2 separate regions of the Homo sapiens genome follow, and region 2 is linked to region 1. The links come from fine-mapping of genetic effects on gene expression. A gene starts in region 1. The other region holds a variant in brackets. All regions are shown on one strand. Distances are from middle to middle. Region 1 holds the start of TGIF2 (TGFB induced factor homeobox 2). Region 2 holds the start of TLDC2 (TBC/LysM-associated domain containing 2).

Region 1 (11,835 bases):
CCAAAAGTTGGTTCTTTGAAAAAAGTCAAAGCAACTGACAAACCCTCAGCTAGACTGACCAAGAAAAAAAGAAAAAAGACTTGAAATTACTAGAGTCAGAAATGGAGACGATAATATTACCATTAACCTTTCAGGAATAAAATCCTACCTCCTCCAATGACCAGTTTTATAACCTCAGGTGTTACTTAGCCCCTCTGTGCCTCCCTTATCTCTATTCTTTAATCCCAACACTTTGGGAGGCCGAGGCAGGTGGATCACTTGAGCTCAGGAGTTCAAGACCAGCTTGGGCAACACAGCGAAACCATGTCTCTACTAAAAATGCAAAAATTAGCTAGGTGTGGTGGCGGGCGCCTGTAATCTCAGCTACTTGGGAGGCTGAGACATGAGAATCACGGGAACCTGAGAGGCGGATGTTGCAGTGAGCAGAGATTGCACCACAGCGAGACTCTGTCTCAGAAAAAGAAAAAAGAAAAAAAAGCAGTGGACTCCTAGATCCTATGAAGGCTGCAACCTAGACCCGACAAGAGATCAGAAATTTATTATCCAAAGAATACAGAAGGTCCTGGACAGATGAACACCAGGCACAGGAGAGGAGAAGACAGCAACAACAGAAGGGTTACACAGAAATTCATGTACTCAGTGTTGAGGATATCCAGACCCTTAGTCTTCCTCCACTCAGCTTGGGAACACTGTCAGCAAGGCACAGAGCCCACTCAGGCCTTCATGCCGCACTAGCTCCCAGGGCCCCAGACCTTCTAGTACAATGGAAAAATGAGACTGTCAAGGCATAGCTCTCATCAAAGAAATTCCAGGCCAGGCACAGTGGCTCACACCTGTAATCCCAACATTTTGGGAGGCCAAGGCAGGCGGATCACCTGAGGTCAGGAATTTGAAACCAGGCTGGGCAACATGGTGGAACGCCATCTCTACTAAAAATACAGAAATTGGCCGGGTGCAGTGGCTCACGCCTGTAATCCCAACACTTCGGGAGGCCGAGGTGGGCAGATCACTTGAGGTCAGGAGTTCGAGACCAGCCTGGCTAACATGGTGAAACCCCATCTCTACTAAAAATACGAAAAATTAGCTGGGCGTGGTAGCCTGCGCCTATAATCCCAGCTACTCGGGAGGCTGAGGCAGGAGAATCGCCTAAACCGGGAGGCAGAGGTTGTGGTGAGTCAAGATCATGCCTCTATACTCCAGCCTGGGCGACAGAGCAAGACTCCGTCTCAAAAAAAAAAAAAAAAAGAAAAAAAAAAGCCTACTGAAGCCTGATAGCTTCCAACTTTTCTTCAGCAGCTTCCTCAGCTCTCTCAGCCTTCAGAGAATTGAAGACAGTTAGGGCTTATGCTCTGGATTAGGCTTTGGTTTAAGGGAACGTTGTCGCTGGTCTGATCATCTATCTAGACCACTCAAATTTTCTCCATATCAGCAATAAGGCTGTTCCCTTTCTTATTACTGTGTTCACTGAAATAGCACCTTTTTCTTTATTTATTTTTGTATTTTTTTTTTCTTTTTAGTACAGATGGGCTTTCACCATGTTGGCCAGGGTGGTCTCGAACTCCTGACCTCAAGTGATCCCACCTGCCTTGGCCTCCCAAAGTGCTCAGGTTACAGGCATGAGCCACTGCGCCTGGCCAATTTTTGAGACAGGGTCTCACTCTTTCACGCAGGCTGGAGTACAGTGGCACAATTATACCTCACCACAGCCTCAACCTCCTGGGCTCAAGCCTTCCTCCACCTCAGCCTCCCAAGTAGCTGGGACTACAGGCATTCGCCACCATGCCCAGCTGATTATTTTTTGTTGAGAGGGGGTCTTGCTATGTTGCTCAGGCTGGCCTCAAACTCCTGGGTTCAAGAGACCTTCCCCTGCCTCGGCCTCCCGAAGTGTTGGGATTACAGGCATGAGCCACCAGACCTAGCCAGATAGTTTTTGTTTGTTTGTTTTGAGACAGAGTCTTGCTCTGTCGCCCAGGCTGGAGTGCAGTGGCGTGATCTCAGTTCACTGCAACCTCTGCCTCCCAGATTCAAGCAATTCTCCCGCCTCAGCCTCCCCAGTAGCTGGGATTACAGGTGTGAGCCACCGCGCCCAGCCAATTGTTCTTGAGTGAAATTAAAAGTGCTACTCCAGAGGCGGGGCATGGTGGCTCACAACTTTAATCCCAACACTTGGGACGGCTGAGGCAGGAGGATCACTTGAGCCCAGGAGTTGGAGGCCAGCCTGGACAACATAGCGTGACCTCGTCTCTACTAAAAACTAAAAAAACAAAAAAAAGGCCTATCTTGGCTTTCAACATGCCTTTCTCACTGAGCTTAATTATTTCTAGCTCTTGATGTGAAGTGAGAGATTTGCAACTCTTCCTTACACTTGAACACTTAGAGGCCACTGTACGATTACTAATTGCAAACAGCTGGTTGGTGGAGCGGTCAGAACACATACAATATTGATGGAGTAAGTTTACCGTCTTACACAAGCATCATTCATGATGCCCCAAAACAATTACAATAGTAACATCAAAGATTATTGATCGCAGATCACCATACTAGATATAATAATAACAAACTTTGAAATATTTCAAGAATTACCAAAATGTGGCACAGAGACACATACTGAGCATCCTTTTGGAAAAATAATGCTGGTAGACTTTGCTCGACACAGGGTTGCCAAAAGCCCTCAATTTGAAAAAAACGCAGTACCTGCAAAGCGCAAAAAAGCAAGGCACAATGAAACAAGGGGTGTGCCTGTTTTCTTTGACTCTCACCGAAGCCTTGTGTTTCCACAACATGAGAAAAGGGAGGTTCAGAAGGTGTGGATGATTTTCCTAAATCACCTGGCTAGTAACCAAGTCCCAGGGCCACAGCCTTCCCACCGCAAGGCACTGTCGCCCAAAGCCTTCAGGAGTAAGCTTGGCTGTAGGTTTTCCAGCCATAGGCACACAGCCAGACACAGGTGGGCACTCAGAAATTAGTTACGTGAGTAAATACCCAACAACTAGGAGAAAGCTAGGCAAATTGTGGTTGACCAACAAGACACTGCAAGACTTTTCAGGAGGAAGATGTGGAATTCCACTTATCAACATTAGATGAAAATGCAGAACCTCACATAACAGCCACAAATCTCCCTAGATCTCAGAGGCGGGTCTCCATCCGCTCGGCCTCAATTATCCAGAGCTGAGTCACCAACTATCCTCCCTCCAGTCTCTCCCCAGCTCTCCGCAGGAACCAGCTGGAGCTCTCTACTGCCCACACTGCCAAATCCAAATTCTTCATCCTGGCCTTCACAGCCCTTCCATCTCAACCAATCCAGTTGTTTCCTGAACACTTTCACCCTCCCTGGCCTTTGTTGGACTCTTCCCTCTACCCCACAGAAGCCCATCTTCTCCTTTATCCTGAGATGCAACTTGGCTCATATGGATTCTCAGTGAATGCTGGTGCCTTTCCCCACTTCCATCAAAAAGGGAGCGGTGGCCAGGTGTGGTGGCTCACACCTGTAATCTCAGTACTTTGGGAGGCCAAGGCAGGTAGATCACCTGAGGTCAGGAGTTCAAAACCAGCCTGGCCAACATGGCGAAACCCCGTCTCTACTGAAAATACAAAATTAGCCGGGCGTGGTGGTGCATGCCTGTAATCCCAGATACTCAGGAGGCTGAGGCAGGAGAATCACTTGAACCTGGCAGGCGGAGGTTGTAGTGAGCCGAGATCTCGCCACTGCACTCTAGCCTGGGCAACAAGAGCGAAACTCTGTCTCAAAAAAAAAAAGGAAGCGGCTCACTTTTTTTTTTTTTTAACAAAAGTGGATTTATTCATTTAAACCTATGTGATCACCAAGTTCACTAGAAACTGGCAGGATGAACCTGGAGCCTCACATCCAAGAGCCTCCGGTTTGGGTTTTTCTGGTACGGAGGCAGGGAACTGACTTAGATGACCTGGGCAGCCAGGCTGGTCTGGGCTTGGATGCCTTTCCACCTCTCCTTCCTCTCCTAGTCTATCCCCAGCTCCCTTCCAGGGGTCAGGACCCCAAACTCCTATTAGGCAAGTCTTTTCTTCCCTTAGCAACCCAGTTTCTTCAAACATGGGGAAAAAAGGTAGGAGGAGCTTCTTATCACAATATTTCTTTTTAATTTAGAAAGAGGAGGAGAAAGCTAGGCTCACACCTGTAATCTTAACACTTTGGGAGGTTGAGGCGGTGGATCACTTGAGGTCAGGAGTTCAAGATCAGCCTGGCCAACATGGCAAAACTCAAGTCTCTACTAAAAACACAAAAATTAGCTGGGCACGGTGGTGGGCGTGGGCGCCTTTAGTCCCAGCTACTCAGGAGGCTGAGGCAGGAGAATCGCTTGCAGCTGGGAGGTGGAGGTTGCAGTGAGCTGAGATCGCATCACTGCACTCCAGCCTGGGCGACAGAACGAGACTCTGTCTCAAAAAAAAAAAAAAAAAGAAAAAAGAAAGTAGGGGAGAGAAAAATGACAATAACTTATCACTTGGAAAAAGTTTTCCCACTAAAGTTCTCACCAACTATGTCCAAAGTCCCTCCTTGTTGGGACACTGTAAGCTGTCAATAAATATACCTTGGTCATGCCCCTACATTAGCGCGCACCAACTTACCCCATTTTAAGAGCCTGCGGTAGAGAGGTCTCAGAGTTGCTATAATGGGCCAGCTCCTGGTGAGGGGTATTTAGTTGTTTGCAATTTTCCCGAATGAACAGTTCTGCAAAGAACAATCTTCTATAAGCATTTATCTTTGTTGTACAGCTACTTCAAAAGACAGATTCCTAGAAGTGGAATTACTGTCTTAGAGAATCTACACATTTTAAATTCTGATACTTACTAGTTCAGAAACTTGACACGGTAATTCTCAAACTCTAATTGCACTTAGGCTTTATCTGTGAAGCTTGCTTACGTGCAAAATCTGACCGGCTACCAGCCTCCCTCCACCACTACCCCGTCCTCCAGGAGAGAGGAGGGGCTCCAGGTCTTTGTTATGCAGCTCTCAGGTGGAGGAGGAGGCAGCACTCCCCCGCTTCCATTTTCCCAACCACATCTAGCACCAGACTTGGGAAACACTCGTCTAAGGGGCTGCTGCAGGCACAATTTACGGTGCGGTCTCTTCCTCTAGCCCAGGCCCCCAGTGGCTTCCCCAGAAAGGGCAGAATGTGGCTCTTACGCATACAGGAGAAAAACGCCTAGTGCGGAGTTCAAGCTCAGCAGCCACTACCAGAGCCCCCTCTCCAGGCTCACCTGGTCGCACCCATTTCCCCCTGGGGCTCCCCTCTTCTGAAGGTCCCTGTCCCATACATTTCCTAGAGGCCAAGGCCCATTGGTTTTACATTTCTTACCTAAGGCAACCCAGACGTGGCTTTTTCTTTCACAGGGCCGTGGGGGGAGCACCACTTCCCCGGCCAAAAAAATTGTTTCTGACCCACACTCTGGGCCTTATTTTCCCTGTCTGTGAAATGGAGAGCAACAGGCAGTGCCACTGACATTTCACCCGCTGCCGTGAGGAGGTTTTTAACATTTGCAGGAAGTCTGGCTTCTATGGGGTGTCCAGGTGAAACCTTAACAATCTTTAATCAGCATTCTGATTGGCTTAAGGCTTGTTTGGAAAAAATTAAGAGTTTTGTTCCTAGAGTTCTCCATTGCTAAAGGGTAATTAAGTCCAAAAGCTGTTTTCAAAGCGATTTCCAAGCTCAAGGGCCCTAGATATCTGGACCTAGCCGTGTCCGGGTACAGGGCTGGGGGGCGTGGGGGGATGCCCTAAGAGGCTGGTTAACAGAAATATCACAGTATGTGGTACCCACAGCAGAGAGCAGGGAAGAATGTACTGACTGGGGTGGGGGAGGCCAAGGAAAACCTTCTGGAGTAGGGTGTAACTGGCAGAAGAGGAAAAAGAAACCAGACAGGAACTCCGGGAGCTCCTGGACTGATCGTTTAAGGCCGGGCACAAGGGGTAAGGGATCAGGCTTCACTATCGACCGACCTGGGCTGAATGATACCGGTTGACTGTGTGACAAAAGCAAATCAAGAACCTCTCTGCGGCTCATGAGTAAGCCAGAGACTTACATAGGACAACACATACCCTATCACCCGAGGATGAGACGGGATGACACACACGAAGTGCCCCGCACAGCGTCGTTGTAAAGCGTTGGCTGTTTTCACCTCTGGCCGCCCCCTGTGAGCCCGATCATGTGCTTTTTGGGCTTAGGTCGGAGGCGGCCTCCCAGATTCTACAGGCCATTGAGGTCGTAACAAGCGTCTCCATCAGAGCCTAGTCCTTAACTAGCTGCGGGTAAGTGCCCGGACTAAGTGGCCTCAGTTTCCCCTCGAAGCAACGGGACCAATCGCACCGCCGGCAGGACATCTTGTGCGGGGCGCGAAGTGACAAAAGTCAGGATTTGCAGAAGTTCCCACTCGGTAACGACCCCCACCCCGGCAAGGAGCACAGTAGGCGCTCCGGAAACGCCCTCCACGAGGAGGGCCGGGCCACTTCCTGCCCCCGAGCGGGCTCTCCCCGGCGGAGGCTCCCACCGCCGCTATGGGTAGGCCATGCAGCATTCCTGAGGGCGGGGTGGGCGCAGGAAGAAGGTGCCCGCGGCCCCGCCCCCTCCGGGCGCGCTGGGCGGGGCGAAGCCCCTCGGCGCCGACGGCCCGCCCCGCGGGGGGTGGGCGCAGCTCGTCGCGCTCCGCACAAAGTTTGTTTTCTCCCTCCGGGCGGGTGGGGGAGGGCGCAGAGGGCGCGGGGGGAGGAGAGGGGATCTGACGTCAGGCCGCGAGGTGCTTTCCAGCCGCGAGCTGTCAGGCCGAGTGTCAGGCCGGGCAGGTACGCGGCGCGCGCCCCCGGCGCCCCCCGCTCCCCGCCGGGACGCCCCGCGCCGAGCCGGAGGCCGCGTGGACCCGAAAGCCGCTGGGAAAAGTCAGTGCAGGGAGCAGCAGAGGGCCAGATGGGGGTGGGGGCGCGCGGACAACTTGGAAAGTTTCTTTTTCTCGGCCGGACGGGGAGGGGGCGTCGTCCTGGCGCGTGCGGTAGGGGGTGTGTGAGCTCGGGGGTGTTTGTGAGTCCCGACGGCCCCCGGGGGGTGTTTGTGAGTCCCGACGGCGCTGCGCTCCGGGGGCCGGTGGGGGACTGTTCCAGCCCCCGGGAGGAAGCCCGCTTGGGGCCCTGGTGGGGGGCCCAGCTTCATAGGATCCCACCCCAGGAGAGGGCCGATCCTGCACCGGACCTGAGTGAGCGCGCGGGGGGACGGATTTGTTTGGTTTCAAAAGTGCACGTTGCTAACCGCCAGCAGGGCCCCCCCGCCGCCGAGCCGGACAGGGGGCGGCCGAGAGTGACAGCTGGGGGTGGGGGCCGCGGGAAGGGCCCGGAGCGGGGGGGCCCTGGGGAGCCCGCGCGAGTTCCCCTTTCCTTTGGAACAAAGGAAAGTCTGTCTCCGAGGCATCTGTCACTCCCAGGCTGGCCAAGGAAGCGGGGCGCGTGGGGCCGGCGCCCCGGAGAAAGTTTGTTCGCGCCGGGACCCTCGGGCAGGCCGAAGGTGATCCAAGCCTCCCGCGGGAGAAGCGCGTAGTCTCCGGGGCAGGGGGCGGCCAACATGGAGTCTGGGCGCAGGGCTGGGGGGGGGGGGGCGGCGCGGAGGTGGGAGCCCAGCCCCCTCCCCTCCCTTCCCCTCCCCTCCCCCTCCGGGCCCAGTTCGGAGCACAAAGCCGAGCGCGCACGCTCCGCCGTCCCCGCGCCCCGAAGAGTCGGCCAGCCCCGAACTGCCGGAGTAGGGGTGGGAACCAAACTTTTTCCTGCCCCGGGACAGACACGTGAGTTTTCTTTCTTCCAGAGCCCCCGTCCCACCGGGATGGCGGGCCCGCGCGGGAGCTGGTGCGCGGAGTCGGCCCGGGGTGTGGGGACTGTGGGGTGCAAGCGCCCCGAGCGCCGGACGATTCCTCGCCGACCCAGGAGCCATGTGCTCCGACTCGGTCTGGGCCGCGGGGGAGGTTGCGCGCTTTGTCTGAACTGCTGGGAATGCGGGCGTGAGTGCGCGGCCCGGGGGAGTGTCGGGACCAGCTAGGGGAGTTGTCAGAAAGTTCGTGCGGGAGTGGCTGCAGGTGGCGTCGTGGGAGTCTGTAGGAGGGTGTACGGGATGTTGTGTCGAGGGGTTGCTGCCACAGGTCACTGAGGGTAGAACTGATTGTTAGTGTGATGACGCCTGGAGTTTTCCCTGTCGGAGAGATCGGGGGTGGCCGGGTCGGTTGGAGTTCGTGGGTGGGCGGGTACAGAAGTTGGGCTAGTTGTGTGGGTCACAGTTGTTCGTGCTAGGCCTGGGGTCTGTAAGCTGTGCGTGTGCGTGCTGTATGCGTCGGTGAAAACCCTAGGGTTTGTAAGGCTTGAGCGATGGGTCCGGGCCAGTTATCCTAGCGCTGTTGGTTAATTGCCTGGCGTGAGTGTGTCTGGGTGCGGTGTGGGGTGCATATGTGGGAAGCCTCCCAGACTACAGATGGCCCTGTGTGGCGGAACACCGAGGTGGAGAAGTTTGTGTAGACTGAGGGGTCATTCCCCAGGGCCCACCCGGGGAACCCTGCAGACAGACTTGGCTGGCAGCCAGGGTGGAATTTGTACAGATAACCTTGAGTACTTCTCACAGCCGGCCAGGGCTGCATCACTGAGCCCAGATCCCAGCTGCCCTGGCCACCTAGAAATGGCTGTCTGACCTCAGAAAGCAGCCTGCAGTGGTGCTCTCTGAGGAGTGGCACGTCTAACCAGTGCCTGTCTCACCTCCAGGTGGCCTGACTGAAAGGGTAGACCCTTCCCTCGAAAGCCTGGCCTAGCCAGCCCAGAGATCTGGGCTCGGGTCCAAGAAGAGGAAACAAAACCTGGGAGATGCCAGAGTCTGTTGGCCGGCCTGCTGGGGAGCTGTTAAAAGGCTGAGAAGGGAGGAGCCTTGAGATCCTGGCATCAGCCTGGCCTAGAACTTTTGCTTTTAAAATGAAAATCTGGCTGGGCGGGGTGGCTCACACCTGTAATCCCAGATCTTTGGGAGGCCGAGGCGGGCAGATCACCTGAGGTCAGGAGTTCAAGACTAGCCTGGCCAACATGGCAAAACCCTGTCTCTACTAAAAAAAAAAAAATAGCTAGATGTGGTGGCACACACCTGTAATCCCAGCTGTTCGGGAGGCTGAGGCAGGAGAATTGCTTGAACCTGGGAGATGGAGATTGCAGTGAGCCAAGATTGCGCCACTGCACTCCAGCCTAGGCTACAGAGCGAGACTCCATCTCAAAAAAAAAAAAAGAAAGAAAGAAAGAAAGAAAATCTTTGTTGCACGTGTGAAACAGAACTTTGTCCAGGGACTGAGCAGCTGAGTTGGGTTATCTAGGGAAAATCCTTCCTTCATTTGACAGGTGAAGAGGGGACTCAAGCCCAGAAAGGGGAGGATCCTTGTCCAAGTTACAGTGCCAAGTGGAGGGTGGGCCTTGCTCATTCACCTGGATTTTGAGTGGTTGAGTCTAGGACCAGGCTAAAGGGGCCTGACAAAGGAGAATGTCCAAGAAGCAACCAGTAGAGAGATGACTCACCTCTCTCACTGCAAGGTACACAGTAGGTGCTCCTTAAATATTACTTGGACTGCTGCAGGATCATGGTGATCTGTAGTTTCCAGAGTTCTCACTGGCCCTTGGGAGACCTAGGAGGCAAGACAGTATACAGCTCACAAGAGGGGGTGGGGAGAGGCCTGGTCCAAATCCGACTTCACTATCCTAACCTGGGGGTGGGATTTTTTTCCTTTACAGCTTTATTGAGATATAACTCACATACCATGCAATTCACCCATTAAAGTATACTCATCAGCAGGTTTGGTATGTTTGCAACCATCACTATAGTCAATTTTAGGACTTTTTTGCGGGGGGATAGGGGGACAGGGTCTTGCTCTGCCTCTCAGATGGGAGGGCAGTAGTGTGATCTCATCTCATTGCAACCTCTGCCTCCGGGCTCAAGCGATTCTTCCACCTCAGCCCCCAGAGTAGCTGGGACCACAGACATGCATTACCGTGCTCAACTAATTTTTGTATTTTTTGTAGAGATGGGGTTTCACCGTGTTGCCCAGGCTGGTCTTGAACTACTGAGCTCAAGCGATCCACCTGCCTTGGCCTCCCAAAGTGCCAGGAGTATAGGTGTGAGCCACAGCACGTGGCATTTTTTTTTTATTATTTTATTTTTGAAAACAGGTTTTTAATTATGTCGTCCAGGTTGACATGCACTGGTGCGATCATAGCTCACTACAGCCTTGAACTCCTGGGTTCAAGGGATCCTCTCACCTCAGCCTCTCAGAATAGCTGGGACTACTGGCACACCATCACACTGGGCTAATTTTTATTTTATTTTATTTTTTTATTTTTTTCTTTTGTTGAGACAGGGAATCACTCTGTCACCCAGGCTGGAGTGCAATGCCATGATCTCAGCTCACTGCAACCTCTGCCTTCTAGGTTCAAGCAGTTCTCCTGCCTCAGCCTCCCAAGTAGCTGGGATTACAGGTGTGTGCCACCACACCTAGCTAATTTTTTTTTTTTTTTGGTATTTTTAGTAGAGACGGGGTTTTGCCATGTTGGCCAGGCTGGTCTCGAACTCCTGACCTCAGGTGAGCCACCCACCTCGGCCTCCCAAAGTGCTGGGATTACGAGCGTGAGCCACCGTGTCCGGCCTTTGTTTGTTTTTGTTTTTTTTTTTTTGAGATGGAGTCTCGCTGTGTCACTAGGCTGGAGTGCGGTGGCACGATTTCGGCTCACTGCAACGTCCACCTCCCAGGTTCAAGCAATTCTGCCTCAGCCTCCCGAGTAGCTGGGACTACAGGCACGCGCCACCATGCCCAGCTAATTTTTGTATTTTTAGTAGAAACAGGGTTTCACCCTGTTGGCCAGGATGGTCTCAATCTCTTGACCTCGTGATCTGCCTGCCTCGGCCTCCCAAAGTGCTAGGATTACAGGCATGAGCCACTGTGCCCGGCCTTTGTTTTTTGAGACCTTTTTTATTTTGTTGTCACCCAGGCTGAAGTGCAGTGGCACAAACACAGTTCACTACAGCCTTGACCTCCTGGGCTCAAGCAATTCTGCCTCAGTCCCACAAGTAGGTGGGCTTACAAATGCACAGCATGACACCTGGCTTATTTTTGTATTTTGTGTGTGTGTGTGTGAGCCACTGCGCAGGCCTTGGGCAGCTTTCTTGATCTCTGTTACCTCATCTATAAAATGATGATAATAATAGCTTCTCCCTTATTGGGGAATTGTAATGATTAAATGAGATAACATGTAAAATGCTCAGTACAGGCCAGGCATGGTGGCTCACGCTTGCAATCCCAGCACTTTGGGAGGCTGAGGCTGCTAGATCTCTTGAGGCCAGCAGTTAAGACCAGCCTGGCCAATATGGTGAAACCCTGTGTCTACCAAAAAATACAGAAAGTCAGCCAGGCATGGTGGTGCATGCCTGTAATCCCAGCTACTCAGAGGCTGAGGTGGGAGAATCACTTGAACCCAGGAGACAGAAGTTGAAGTGAGCCAAGATGGCGCCACTGCACTCTAGCATGGGCTACAGAGTGAGAGCCTCTCTCAAAAAAAAAAAAAAAAGAAAAGAAAAAACCAAATGCTTAGTACCGAACATGGAAAACAGTAGACCTCAGTAGAAGCTGTAATTGTTTCCAGCCTGAGTCCTGCTTGTGAATGAGCTGCCATTCGGTAGTCACCTACCTGTTCCATGAAGTGGAGGAACTTTGGACTCATCCCTTCTAGCTTGCTCGGTCTGTGTTACGGCCTGAGATTCTGAATTGCAACTACCCCATTTCTGGTGTCCCAGGCTCAAGTAATGCTGAGCA
Region 2 (11,835 bases), 300 kb after region 1:
CACAGCTTGGATGTGGCAGGGCTGGGATTGACTTGAACCCAGAGCTGCCCAATTCCAGGGCCTGTTGTGGTACCCTATTGGGCTGCGAAGTGCCCAGCACAGACACACAGTGTGTGCTGCAGAAAGCGCTACTCAAAAGAGACTGAAGCATTACCTTGTAAGAATTATATAACATAGGAAGTGAAGATGCTGATTACCCAAGTAGAAAAACGGTTTCATTTCTCCCATTCAAGCTGCTAAATTGACCAACGTGATGAAAACTGAATGGAGACTCACTCCTGGAAAGCTTCCAAGAGGAGGTGTGTTTTTTCCTTTTAAACTAAAGTTGTTTTGTTTTGTTTTTTCATTATACAGATTAAAAAACAAGCAACTGGCTATGGGAAAATTAGAGGAATCGGTCGGGAAACCTCATTAAATAGGGGAGTCAGGAAGGCCTCTCAGAGAAGGCAGCCTTTTTTGTTTTTGTTTTTGTTTTTTGTTTTTTGTTTGAGATGGAGCCTAGCTTTGTTGCCAGGCTGGAGTGCAGTGGTGCAATCTTGGCTCACTCCAACCTCTGCCTCCTGGGTTCAAGCGATTCTCCTGCCTCAGCCTCCCAAGTAATTGGGATTACAGGCATGCGCCACCATGCCCAGCTAATTTTTGTATTTTTAGTAGAGACGGGGGTTTCACCATGCTGGCCAGGATGGTCTCGATATCCTGACCTTGTGATCTGCCCACCTTGGCCTCCCAAAGAGCTGGGATTACAGGTGTGAGCCACTGCACCCAGCCAAGGAGGCAGCCTTTAAACTGAGTTATTCTTTTTTTTTTTTTTTTTTTTTTTTTGAGACAGAGCTGTCGCCCAGGCTGGAGTGCAGTGGCGCGATCTTGGCTCACTGCAAGCTCCACCTCCCAGGTCCACGCCATTCTCCTGCCTCAGCCTCCAGAGTAGCTGGGACTACAGGCGCCCGCCACCACACCTGGCTAATTTTTTTGTATTTTTAGTAGAGACGGGGTTTCACTGTGTTAGCCAGGACGGTCTCGATCTCCTGACCTTGTGATCTACCCGCCTCGGCCTCCCAAAGTGTTGGGATTACAGGTGTGAGCCACTGTGCCTGGCCTAAACTGAGTTATTCAAGGAGCCACTGAACAGTTAGGGCCTTGCCTTTTTTTTTTTTTTTTGAGACAGTGTTGCTCAGGCTGGAGTGCTGTGGTGTGATCTTGGCTCACGGCAACCTCCACCTCCCAGGTTCAAGCAATTCTCTTGTCTCAGCCCCCTGAGTGTTGGGATTACAGGCGCCCACCACCACACCTGGCTAATTTTTTTTTGTATTTTTAGTAGAGACGGAGTTTGACTATTTTGACCAGGCTGGTCTCTAACTCCTGACCTCAAGATCTGCCTGCCTTGGCCTCCCAAAGTGCTGGGATTACAGGTGTGAGCCACCATGCCCGGCTGCTGCTTTTTCTTTTTTCTTTCTTTTTTTTGAGACAGAGTCTCACTCTGTTGCCCAGGCTGGAGTGCAGTTGCACGATCTCAGCTCACTGCAACCTCCACCTCCCAAGCTCAAATGATTCTCCTGCCTCAGCCTCCCGAGTAGCTGGGATTACAGGTGCGTGCCACCACGCCTAGCTAATTTTTTTTTTTTTTTTTGAGATGGAGTGTCACTCTGCCGCCCAGGCTAGAGTGCAGTGATGCCATCTCAGTTCACTGCAACCTCCACCTCTTGGGTTCAAGCAATTCTCCTGCCTCAGCCTCACAAGTAGCTGGGACTACAGGTGCCCGCCATCATGCCTGGCTAACTTTTGTATTTTTAGTAGAGACAGGATTTCACCGTGTTGGGCAGGCTGGTCTCAAACTCCTGACCTCAAGTGATCCACCCACCTCGACCTCCCAAAGTGCTGGGATTACAGTTATGAGCCACTGTGCCTGGCCCACTTCTGTTTTCTCAATGAAGAATGCAGTTGCCAGCCATTCAGAGTAAGAGAAAGAAGAGATCTCAGAGAGTGAAAATCAAACCTTCTGGGACATGTCAGGGAGTGTCTGGTCATCTTATACTCACCTGAAGTTCAAAGGGGAGCCAGTCAGCCCAGTGAACACCGGGTGTATTCCCTTTTAGTCATTTTCTCTTTGCTAATTTCAAGTTTCTTTTGCATAGCTGAAATCTTACTGCCTATGCAATTTTGTATCCTGCTTTTTTCGCTTAACAGGGTAGCAGAAGCATATCCCCACACATTTATAACACATTTATAAGCTCTTTGCAAACATCACTCTTCATACTTAGAAATAATCCACTGGGCTGGGCGCGGTGGCTCACGCCTGTAATCCCAGCATTTTGGGAGGCCGAGGTGGGCGGATCACAAGGTCAGGAGGTCGAGACCATGCTGGCTAACACGGTGAAACCCCGTTTCTACTAAAAATACAAAAAAATTAGCCAGGCGTGGTGGCGGGTGCCTGTAGTCCCAGCTGCTAGGGAGGCTGAGGCAGGAGAATGGCAGGGACCCGGGAGGCGGAGCTTGCGGGGAGCCGAGATCGCGCCACTGCACTCCAGCCTGGGAGACAGAGCAAGACTCTGTCTCAAAAAAAAAAAAAGAAAGAAAGAAATAATCCACTGGGCCATGCGCAGTGGCCCATGCCTATAATCCCAGCACTTTGGTAGGCCGAGGCGGGCAGATCACCCAAGATTGGGAGTTCAAGACCAGCCTGACCAACATGGAGAAACCCTGCCTCTACTAAAAATACAAAATTAGCCAGGCGTGGTGGTGCGTATGCCTGTAATCCCAGCTACTTGGGAGGCTGAGGCAGGAGAATTGCTTGAACCCGGGAGGCAGAGGTTGTGATGAGCCGAGATCACGCCATCGCACTCTAGCCTGGGCAACAAGAGCAAAACTGTCAAAACAACAACAACAACAACAACACAGAAATAATCCACTGAATGGATGATGTTCCATGAATCACTTCACCTTTCCCCCTTTTATTAGACACTTAAATTTTTTCCTGGATGACTATTGCAGTTCTGAAAGAGGCAGCATGAGGTCTGGTCAAGAAGAATGGAGAAGGCAAATTGCTGGTCGCAGTGGCAGTGCCTATAGTCCCAGCTACTCGAGAGGCTGAGGCAAGACAATGGCTTGAACCCTGGAGTTCTGGGCTAGAGTGTGCTATGCTGATTTGGTGTCTGCACTAAGTTTAGCATCAGCATGGTGACCTCCCCCGGAGCAGGGACCACTAGGTTGCCCAAGGAGGAGTGAACTGGCCCAGGTCAGAAATAGCAGATCAAAACTCCCATGCTGGACCAGGTGCAGTGGCTCATGCCTGTAATCCCAGCACTTTGGGAGCCCAAGGCAGGTGGATCACTTGAGGTCACGAGTTTGAGACCAGCCTGGCCAACGTGGCAAAACCCTGTCTCTACTAAAAAAAAATGCAAATTAGCTGGGCATAGTGTCACAGGCCTGTAGTCCCAGCTATTTGGGAGGCTGAGGCAGAAGAATCGCTTGAACCCAGGAGGCAGTGGTTGCTGTGAGCCAAGATCAAGCCACTGCACTCCAGCCTGGGTGACAGAAGAAGACTCCGTCCAAAAAAAAAAAAAATTAAAATAGGCTGAGTGCAGTGGCTCACACCTGTAATGTCAACACTGGAGGCTGAGGTGGGAGGCTCACTTGAGACCAGGAGTTCAAGACCAGCCTTGGCAATATAGCGAGACCCCGTCTCTACAAAAACAAAATAAATAAATAAAAGAAATTAGCAGGGCATGATGGCGCATGCCTGTAGTCCTAGGTACTCAGGAGGCTGAGGCAGGAGGATTGAGCCCAGGAGACTGGCTGCACTGAGCTATGATCATGTTACTGTACTCCAGGCTGAGTAATAGAGCAAGACCCTGTCTCAAATATAAAGTAAGATAAATAAATAAATAAAGATATAAAAAGAAGGTAAACTTCAAGGCAGAGTCCAGACATCTGCTAGGCCCTCTGGTATCTGGAATTCCATCATAGAAGATTTTTGTTCTTGTTTTTTTTTGGTTTTTTGAGACAGAGTCTTGCTCTGTTGCCCAGGCTTGTGTGCAGTGGCACAATCTCAGCTCACTGCAACCTTTGCCTCCTGGGTTCAAGCGAGTATCCTGCCTCAGCCTCCCAAGTAGCTGGGACTACAGGTGTGTACCGCTACAACCGGCTAAATTTTTTTGTATTTTTAGTAGAGACGGGGTTTCGCCATGTTGGCCAGGTTGGTCTTGAACTCCTGACCTCAAGGAATACACCTGCCTCAGCCTCCCAACGTACTAGGATTATAGGCATGAGCCACTGCGCCTAGCCTTTTTTTTTTCTTTTTGAGTCAGAGTCTTGCTCTGTCGCTCAGGCTGGAGTGCAGTGGTGCAGTCTCGGCTCACTGCAACCCCCACCTCCTGGGTTCAGGCGATTCTCCTGCCTCAGCCTCCCAAGGAGCTGGGACTACAGGCATGCGCCACCACACTCAGCTAAAATTTTTTTTTTTTGTATTTTTAGTAGAAATAGGGTTTCGCCTTGTTGGCCAGACTGGTCTTGAACTCCTGACCTCAGGTGATCTGCCCACGTCAGCCTCCCAAAGTGCTGGGATTACAGGCATGAGCCACTGTACCCAGCCTCCATCACGGAAGCTTTCTAGCAGCCGGTTATGTGGCAGTTGATGTTCCTGCCAGATCACACGCTGAGTTTTCCTGACCATGAGGACACAGAATGGGACAGTAAGGCAAACCCCATTGGCTTCTCAAAGTGCTCAGTGGTTCAGGTGTTGAGCTTGGAGGAGGGGTGGCAAGAAGTGCTAGGCATGTGAGCCCCAAGCCATTTACAGCTTAAACACACATTGCAACAGCCATGTTTGAGGTGGCAACAGGGCCCTTTGCTTACTTGTTTTCCCCATAATACACGTCCTTTTGGCATCCCACACTTCCCGGAGGGAACACTGCCCCAGGACACCCGGCCACGAGCAGGGCATCTGGGGACCCATGTCCTCTCCACCAAGACCAGCAGAATAGGGTCTCTTTCAGCTGTGAAAAGATGGCACAAGCTACCTGTGAAACGGTGGGCTCACCCACCTAACAGGCCGGTGACCTGGGCACATTCCCCAGGGGATTCCCATCCCAGGGGCAGGCTACTGAAGCCCTTTCCAGCTTTGAAGTTCTGTGAGTCAACAACAGAGCAGTCATTGAGATCTTACTGTGAGCTGGGGACAGAGAAGTAGCCCCCTCTTCAATGGATCGTCTACTGCCTGCCAAACATAGCTTCCTGTGTGTGACCTCGCCTAATGTCACCACAGTCCAGTGAGAAACGTCCTCATCTCATCTGAGAGGAAACCAGCAGGGGCCGAGCCTGCCGGCCCTGGAGCACAGGGTGACTGACGGAGAACCCCACAACCTCACCCTTTCCTGTAGTGTTTGTAGATCAGAGATTTTATTTTCTTTTATTTTTGAGACAGGGTCTCACTCTGTTGCCCAGGCTGGAGTGCAGTGATGTGATTTTGGCTCATTGCAGCCTCGACTTTCCCAGGCTCAGGTGATCTTCACATCTCAGCCTCCCAAGTAGCTGGGACTACAGGCATGTGCCACCACACCTGGCTAATTTTTAAAATTTTTTTGTAGAGATGGAGTTGCGCCATGTTGTCCAGGCTGTTCTCAAACCCCTGGGCTCAGGCGATCCTCCCACCTGAGACTCCCCAAATCCTAGGATTACAGGTGTGAGCCACCGTGCCCAGCCATATTGCAGATTTTAACCTCAAGGGAATAGTCTTCAGTGGTGGGCATCAAGCACCAGGACCTGGCATCTGGCAGCTGTGGTGAGAGGCTTCAGGAGAGCCAATGTGCCTGCTATCCCCACCTCTTTGGGCTGTTGGGGGCAGAGCTGGGTGCCGGGGGATGATAAGGTCTTGTTTGTGTGTGCTTGTGGGATTTGAGTTTCTGATGTATCATAATCACTGCTGGGCCTTCCCAGCTGGAACCAGAGTGGGCACAGGGCCAGGGCTTGCCGCCCTCTGGGCAGATATAAGAGCTAGGGAGGAGAGCCTGGAGTCTGGGTCAGAGGGGCCAGCCACCTACCCAGGGACCAGGGATTGGAGCTAGCTGCCGCAGACAGACCACCAGGTGGGCAGGGTCAGTGCCCGTGTGGCCCCCTCTCTGGGGATCAGGGAGATACGCTAAAGGCAGGGTGAGTACATCCTTCCACAGCTCCCTTATTTCCCTTCACCCTTTGAGCTCCTCACCCTGCAACTGACCAAGGGACTGCCTGTCCCAGAGGCACCCAGGTGGAGGCTGAGGGGTCACTTGTCAGGGATTCGAGCCCTAGACTCTCAAAGAGTCAGTGTGGGGGGATTGTAATAAGTATTGCCACTCACCCAGCACCCACAAACAACATAAGGTACTGTTATCTCACCTAACTGAGGTCAGGAGGTTGGATGCCTGGCTTAACACCCTAGCTCTCTAGGCTTTATCTTCATTTACTCTTACAACAGCCCTGATGTAGATGTAGATATTAATATTTACAGGTGAGGTGACTGAAGCACAGGGATGTAAAGTAATTTCCCCAAGGCCACACAGCAAAGAAAGTGGCAAAACCAGGATTTGAACTCTCTGACTCCAGAGCTTGTCCTCTTAACCGCCGTCCTACACTCATGTGACTGTGATGAGTTCCTTCCCTTTTCTGAATGGCAGTTTCCTTATCTCTAGTCCGAGGGTCATAAGGTTTGATGACCAGAAAGATATTACCTTGAGCTTCCCTAAAAGTACTTGGACATGGGTCAACTTTAAGCACCTGGGTAACCTTGTTGGAAACACTTATCAAGAACTATGCATATGGCCTTTGATCCAGCATTCAACTTTTGAAATTTATCATAAAGGATACAGTCAGATTTATGAACA[A/G]CGTTCATTGCAGTTTTGCTAATAATTAGAGAAAATTAGAAGTAAACAAAATGTCCAACAGCAGGGGGAATAAGTTATGAATGTCCTGTGATGAAATAATACGCAGCCACTCGAGGAATCATGCATTCCAAGAGCGTAGGGTATCTTGGAGAATTCTCGATTGTTGTTAGTAGAAAAAGTATTTTATAAAACTGTGTGGTCGGCCGGGCGCGGTGACTCATGACTGTAATCCCAGCACTATGGGAGGCCGAGGAGGGCAGATCACCTGAGGTCAGGAGTTCAAGACCAGCCTGACCAACATGGAGAAACCTCGTCTCTACTAAAAATACAAAAATTAGCTGGGTGTTTTGGCACGCACCTCTGATCCCAGCTATTTGGGAGGCTGAGACAGGAGAATCACTTGAACCTGGGAGGCAGAGGTTGCAGTGAGCCAAGATCACACCACTGCACTCCAGCCTAGGCAACAGAGCAAGATTCTGTCTCAAAAACAAAAACAACAAAAACACTGTGTGGTCAATATGGTATGAACACATAATGTGAGCCCTTTGCAAATATACCTTTGGGGGTTGAGAGTTTATTTGTGAGAGATGGAATTGTGAATATTTTTATATTCTTATTCTTTTCCGGTTTCTCAAATTTTCTACAATATCTAAATATCACTTTTTAATTAGAAAAAAAAAAGCTTGGGCCGGGCCCAGTGGCTCACGCCTGTAATCCCAGCACTTTGGGAGGCTGAGGCGGGCGGATCACCTGCGGTCAGGAGTTCGAGACCAGCCTGACCAACATAGAGAAACTCCATCTCTACCAAAAATACAAAATTAGCTGGGTGGAGGCTGAGGCAAAAGAATCACTGGAACCCGGGAGGCAGAGGTTGCGGTGAGCCCAGATCACGCCACTGCACCCCAGCCTGGGCAATAAGAGTGAAACTCCATCTCAAAAAACAAAACAAAACAAAACACCTTTTAAAATCTATTCTTTTTTTTTTTACTGAACATTAACAAAAGTTTATTTATGTTTCAATTTAGAAATTCATATGTTCCATAGTGAAACCCCGTCTCTACTAAAAATACAAGAAATTAGCCAGGCGTGGTGGTGGGTGCCTGTAGTCCCAGCTACTTGGGAGGCTGAGGCAGGGGAATGGCGTGAACTCGGGAGGCAGAGCTTGCAGTGAGCCAAGATCATGCCACTGCAGTCCAGCCTGGGCGACAGAGTGAGACTCTGACTCAAAAAAAAAAAAAAAAAAAGAAATTCATCTGTTCCCCCCACCCCCATCTGAAACTAAATATGGAAAAAGAAACAAAGACTTAATAAAGAAACTTTCTGTTAAATGACAAGCAAAGCAATGATGAAAGCCTAAAATACATCTGTGTTTAGGATGCAAAGTAAAAATAGCTTTTTTTTTTTTTTTTTTTGAGACAAGGCCTCACTCTTGCCCAGGCTGGAGTGCAGTGGCATGATCTCGGCTCACTGCAGCTTCCTCCTCTCAGGCTCAGGTGATCCTCCCACCTCAGTCTTCCGAGTAGCTGGGATTAAGGCGCACGACACCATGCCCAGCTAATTTTTATATTTTTTGTAGAGACAGGGTTTCACCATGTTGCCTAGGCTGGTCTCAAATTCCTGGACTCAAGTGATACGGCTCCCTCAGCCTCCCAAAGTGCTGGGCTTACCGGCATGAGCCACTGCACTGGGCCAGATTGTTCTTTCAGTCTAGGCATGCCCCCTTCTAGCTTCTGTTCTAACACACTCATCGGCTTGGAGAGGGAAGTGAATGGCAGACTGTCAGTCCCGCGAAGTCTTCTGAGATTATCTGGTTCAACATGTTACATGTTGTGTGTGGTGAAACTGAGGCTCAGGAGTGCAAATGGGCTTATCCAAGGTCATACGGGGAACTAGAGGCCCCAGACCTCCAGCCTGGGCCTTAGGCATCTGGCCAATGGCCCACAGTCCCAAGGCCAGGCTGCCAGAAGGACAAGGAGGTAGAAAGGAATTGCAACCAGAATCTATGGTGTATGGTTAATACGTGTTACATGCTAACTGCAATGAGGTCTTGAATGCCGAGTTGCTCACAGACTCACCCAGCAGCAGCTCGGCCTGGAGTGACAGGTGAGAGGGAGCAAAGGGCAGCTGGCGTGGGCATGGAGCTGGCTGGGTGTGCCCCAGGCCTCTCCCTCTCATCTCTAGGCCTCACCTATCAGCGCTTCCTTCCTGGGCAGGGCTGAGGATTCACTCACTGCCCACGGCCGGCTGAGCAGGGACAGGAGAATGAGAGGCCTCCGCTGGCGTTACACTCGGCTGGTAAGGGTTCCAACTCCGTCTGTGGTGCAGGTTGGGAGGTGAAAGGAGGTGAGGTCTCTGGCAGGGTGGGGCCTGGGCTAGGGTTGGATGCGGGCAGTGACTTGTTCCCCTCTCAAGTCCCTCCCTGGCAGGCCTGTGGTTTGGAGCAAGGACTGACTCAGGAACATGGGGTCTTAACACCCCTGCTCCAAGGTTCTCAAGGGGGACAGACCGATGTCTCTGTCCCTTCCTCCCTGGAGTGGGTGCTGGATGGAGCTCTGTTCAGAGCCACACACAGCTAGACCTGCCTCAGGCCTGAGCCTGGAGAACAGAGCGGGGCAGGAGAGGGGGTCCTGTCCATCTCTCAGCCCTTGAGAGGTCTCTTCTTCCTGGGAAAAGCCTGCAAGGTCATTGTGTGGAGGCACACACATACACATACATATAACATATACACACTCACACGCATACACATGCAAACACACACACTCACACACTCAAACACACTCAAATGCACTCATACACACTCAAATGCACTCACACACTCAAACACACATACAGACACACACACATTCAAACACACACACTCACACACACACTCTGGTACAGAGTGGAAGCTCGGATGAATGAATGAGTGAATAATGATGCCCCTTATGGATGTAGATATTTACACCATCACAACTCACACAAACACATTGATATATAAACACAAATTTACACTCAATACCTCCACACATTGATGTGCCTACACAACTCTATTCCAAGCCAACACACAATTCGCACAGACAAACACATTTTACATGAACCTACATGTATGATCCCACATATGACTGCATGCATCATTTCACGGGCTTCATGGGGAAACCTTTGGGCTTCATTTTCTTCCTTTGGAAAATGCTGATAAGAAGAAATACACAGAAGGCCAGGCGCGGTGGCTCACGCCTGTAATCCCAGCACTTTGGGAGGCCAGGTGGATCATCTGAGGTCAGGAGTTCGAGACCAGCCTGGCCAACAGGAGGAACCCGTGTCTCTACTAAAAATACAAAAATTAGCCAGGCATGGTGGTGGGCACCTGTCATCCCAGCTATTTGGGAGGCTGAGACAAGAGAATTGCTTTAACCTGGGAGCCAGAGGTCGCAGTGAGCTGACATTGCACCTCTGAACTCCAGCCTGGGTGACAGAGCAAGACCCTGTCTCAAAAAAAAAAAAAAAAGGAAAAAGAAAAAAGAAGAAGAAACACACAGAGATCACAGACAGTGCACACTGAACACAGGCCTGGGCAAGGATGGGTTTTTTGTTGTTATTATTTAATGTACAAACACACACAATTGAAGCTCCCAGGGCTATGCCACCACCTGCCTTCCCCTCTGCTCCCAAGCTTAGAACTTGATCCCTGCCACCCACCCAGGACCATGGCAAACAGACCGACAAGTCGCACGGCCCACGGCCCCATCTGAGCCTTGTGGGGTGCTGGCGGGGGTGGGGGGACTGTGCTCCAGCCCTCAGCTGGCAGGGGCCAGGGAGGAAGCAGGCTGGCGGCAGGGGCAGCGTCCTGTCTGTCGTGGAAACCCCCAACTACCCTGGGCTGGGCTGGGGGTTACAGGCACATGGGCAGGGAGTGATGAGGTGGCCCGAGGAGGCTCTTGGGCTCAGGAGATGGTAGAAGCTGGGACCTCCTGTCCCTGGACACACCAGGCCACTTTGTGTTTTTGCAGCCCAGCCAGGTGGAGGACACCCTGTCTGGGGAGGAGGGTAACGAAGAGGAAGAGGAGGAGGAGGCAGCTCCAGACCCAGCTGCTGCTCCTGAGGATCCCACGGTGCCCCAGCTGACAGAAGCCAGCCAGGTTTTGAGTGCCTCAGAGATTCGGCAGGTCTGGGCATTGCCCATGGCACAAGAATTTCAGCCCTAAACCTAAGAGTCTCACCCTCCTGCCCTACACCAGCCACGCCCAGGGGCACCTAGAGTCACTCTTGCTCTGTTCTCATCATGCGTTACCTCCGGCAAATTGCTTCTTCTCTCGGGGCTTTGCTTTCCCTTCTTGTAAAATCATCCAGTGTTGCTAGCACCTCCCTCTACACTGGGCCAGGAGGTTAAGGAGGTAAAGAAAGAGGCTAGGACGGGCGCGGTGGCTCACGCCTGTAATCCCAGCACTTTGGGAGGCGAAGGCAGGGGGATCGCTTGAGGCCAGGAGCTGGAGACGAGCCTGGCCAACATGGCAAAACCCTGTCTCTACTAAAAATACAAAAATTAGCCGGGTGTGGTGGTGTGCACCTGTAGTCTCAGCTACTCGGGAGGCTGAGGCACAAGATTTGCTTGAACCCAGCAGGCGGAGGTTGCAGTGAGCTGAGATTGTGTCACTCTGCTCCAGCCTGGGTGACAGAGTGAGACTCTGTCTCAAAAGAAAAAAAGGAAAGAAACTAATTCCTACCTAGAACCAGCCCTTGGGAACTGAGGCCAAAGCTGGAGAGGGGTGGGCGGATGAGACGGAGGATCAGGAGGAGGGTTCAGCATCTTTCCTATTCTCTAGCCTCTGGGGGCAAGGGTGACCAAGCAGAAAGAGTCCTGAGAGTCCTGACCTGGGTTCAAATCCTGTCTCTACCATTCACTACCCATGCGAGCTTTGGGCTAGTTGTTCCACCCTCCCTGGGCCTCAGTTTCCTCATCTATAAGATGGGAATAACAACCCCTATCTCCGAGGGCTATGGCTGA

The links. PIP is the estimated chance that this variant, and not a neighbour inherited with it, causes the effect. A credible set is the group of variants that fine-mapping cannot tell apart.
Region 2: its variant is the best candidate, but not a certain one, in a credible set for the expression of TGIF2 in T cells (TOPMed, PIP 0.60).

What each region holds. Positions count from the first base shown.
Region 1 is chr20:36,566,839-36,578,673 of GRCh38, forward strand. It overlaps TGIF2 (TGFB induced factor homeobox 2), which reads left to right and starts at 6,759. Exons shown (of 3, transcript NM_021809.7): 1 at 6,759-6,907. TGIF2-RAB5IF (TGIF2-RAB5IF readthrough) reads left to right here and starts at 7,677. Exons shown (of 5, transcript NM_001199535.2): 1 at 7,677-7,797. DLGAP4-AS1 (DLGAP4 antisense RNA 1) reads right to left here and starts at 6,437. Exons shown (of 5, transcript NR_109939.1): 1 at 6,074-6,437; 2 at 4,603-4,705. RefSeq lists enhancers at 4,705-5,257, 5,876-5,935 and silencers at 6,436-6,755, 6,786-6,875, 6,946-7,115.
Region 2 is chr20:36,867,059-36,878,893 of GRCh38, forward strand. It overlaps TLDC2 (TBC/LysM-associated domain containing 2), which reads left to right and starts at 9,080. Exons shown (of 7, transcript NM_080628.3): 1 at 9,080-9,149; 2 at 10,841-10,996. The coding sequence starts at 9,117. It also overlaps the pseudogene RN7SL156P. RefSeq lists a silencer at 31-100 and an enhancer at 4,924-5,430. The variant A/G (reference allele first, on the strand shown) is at 6,855.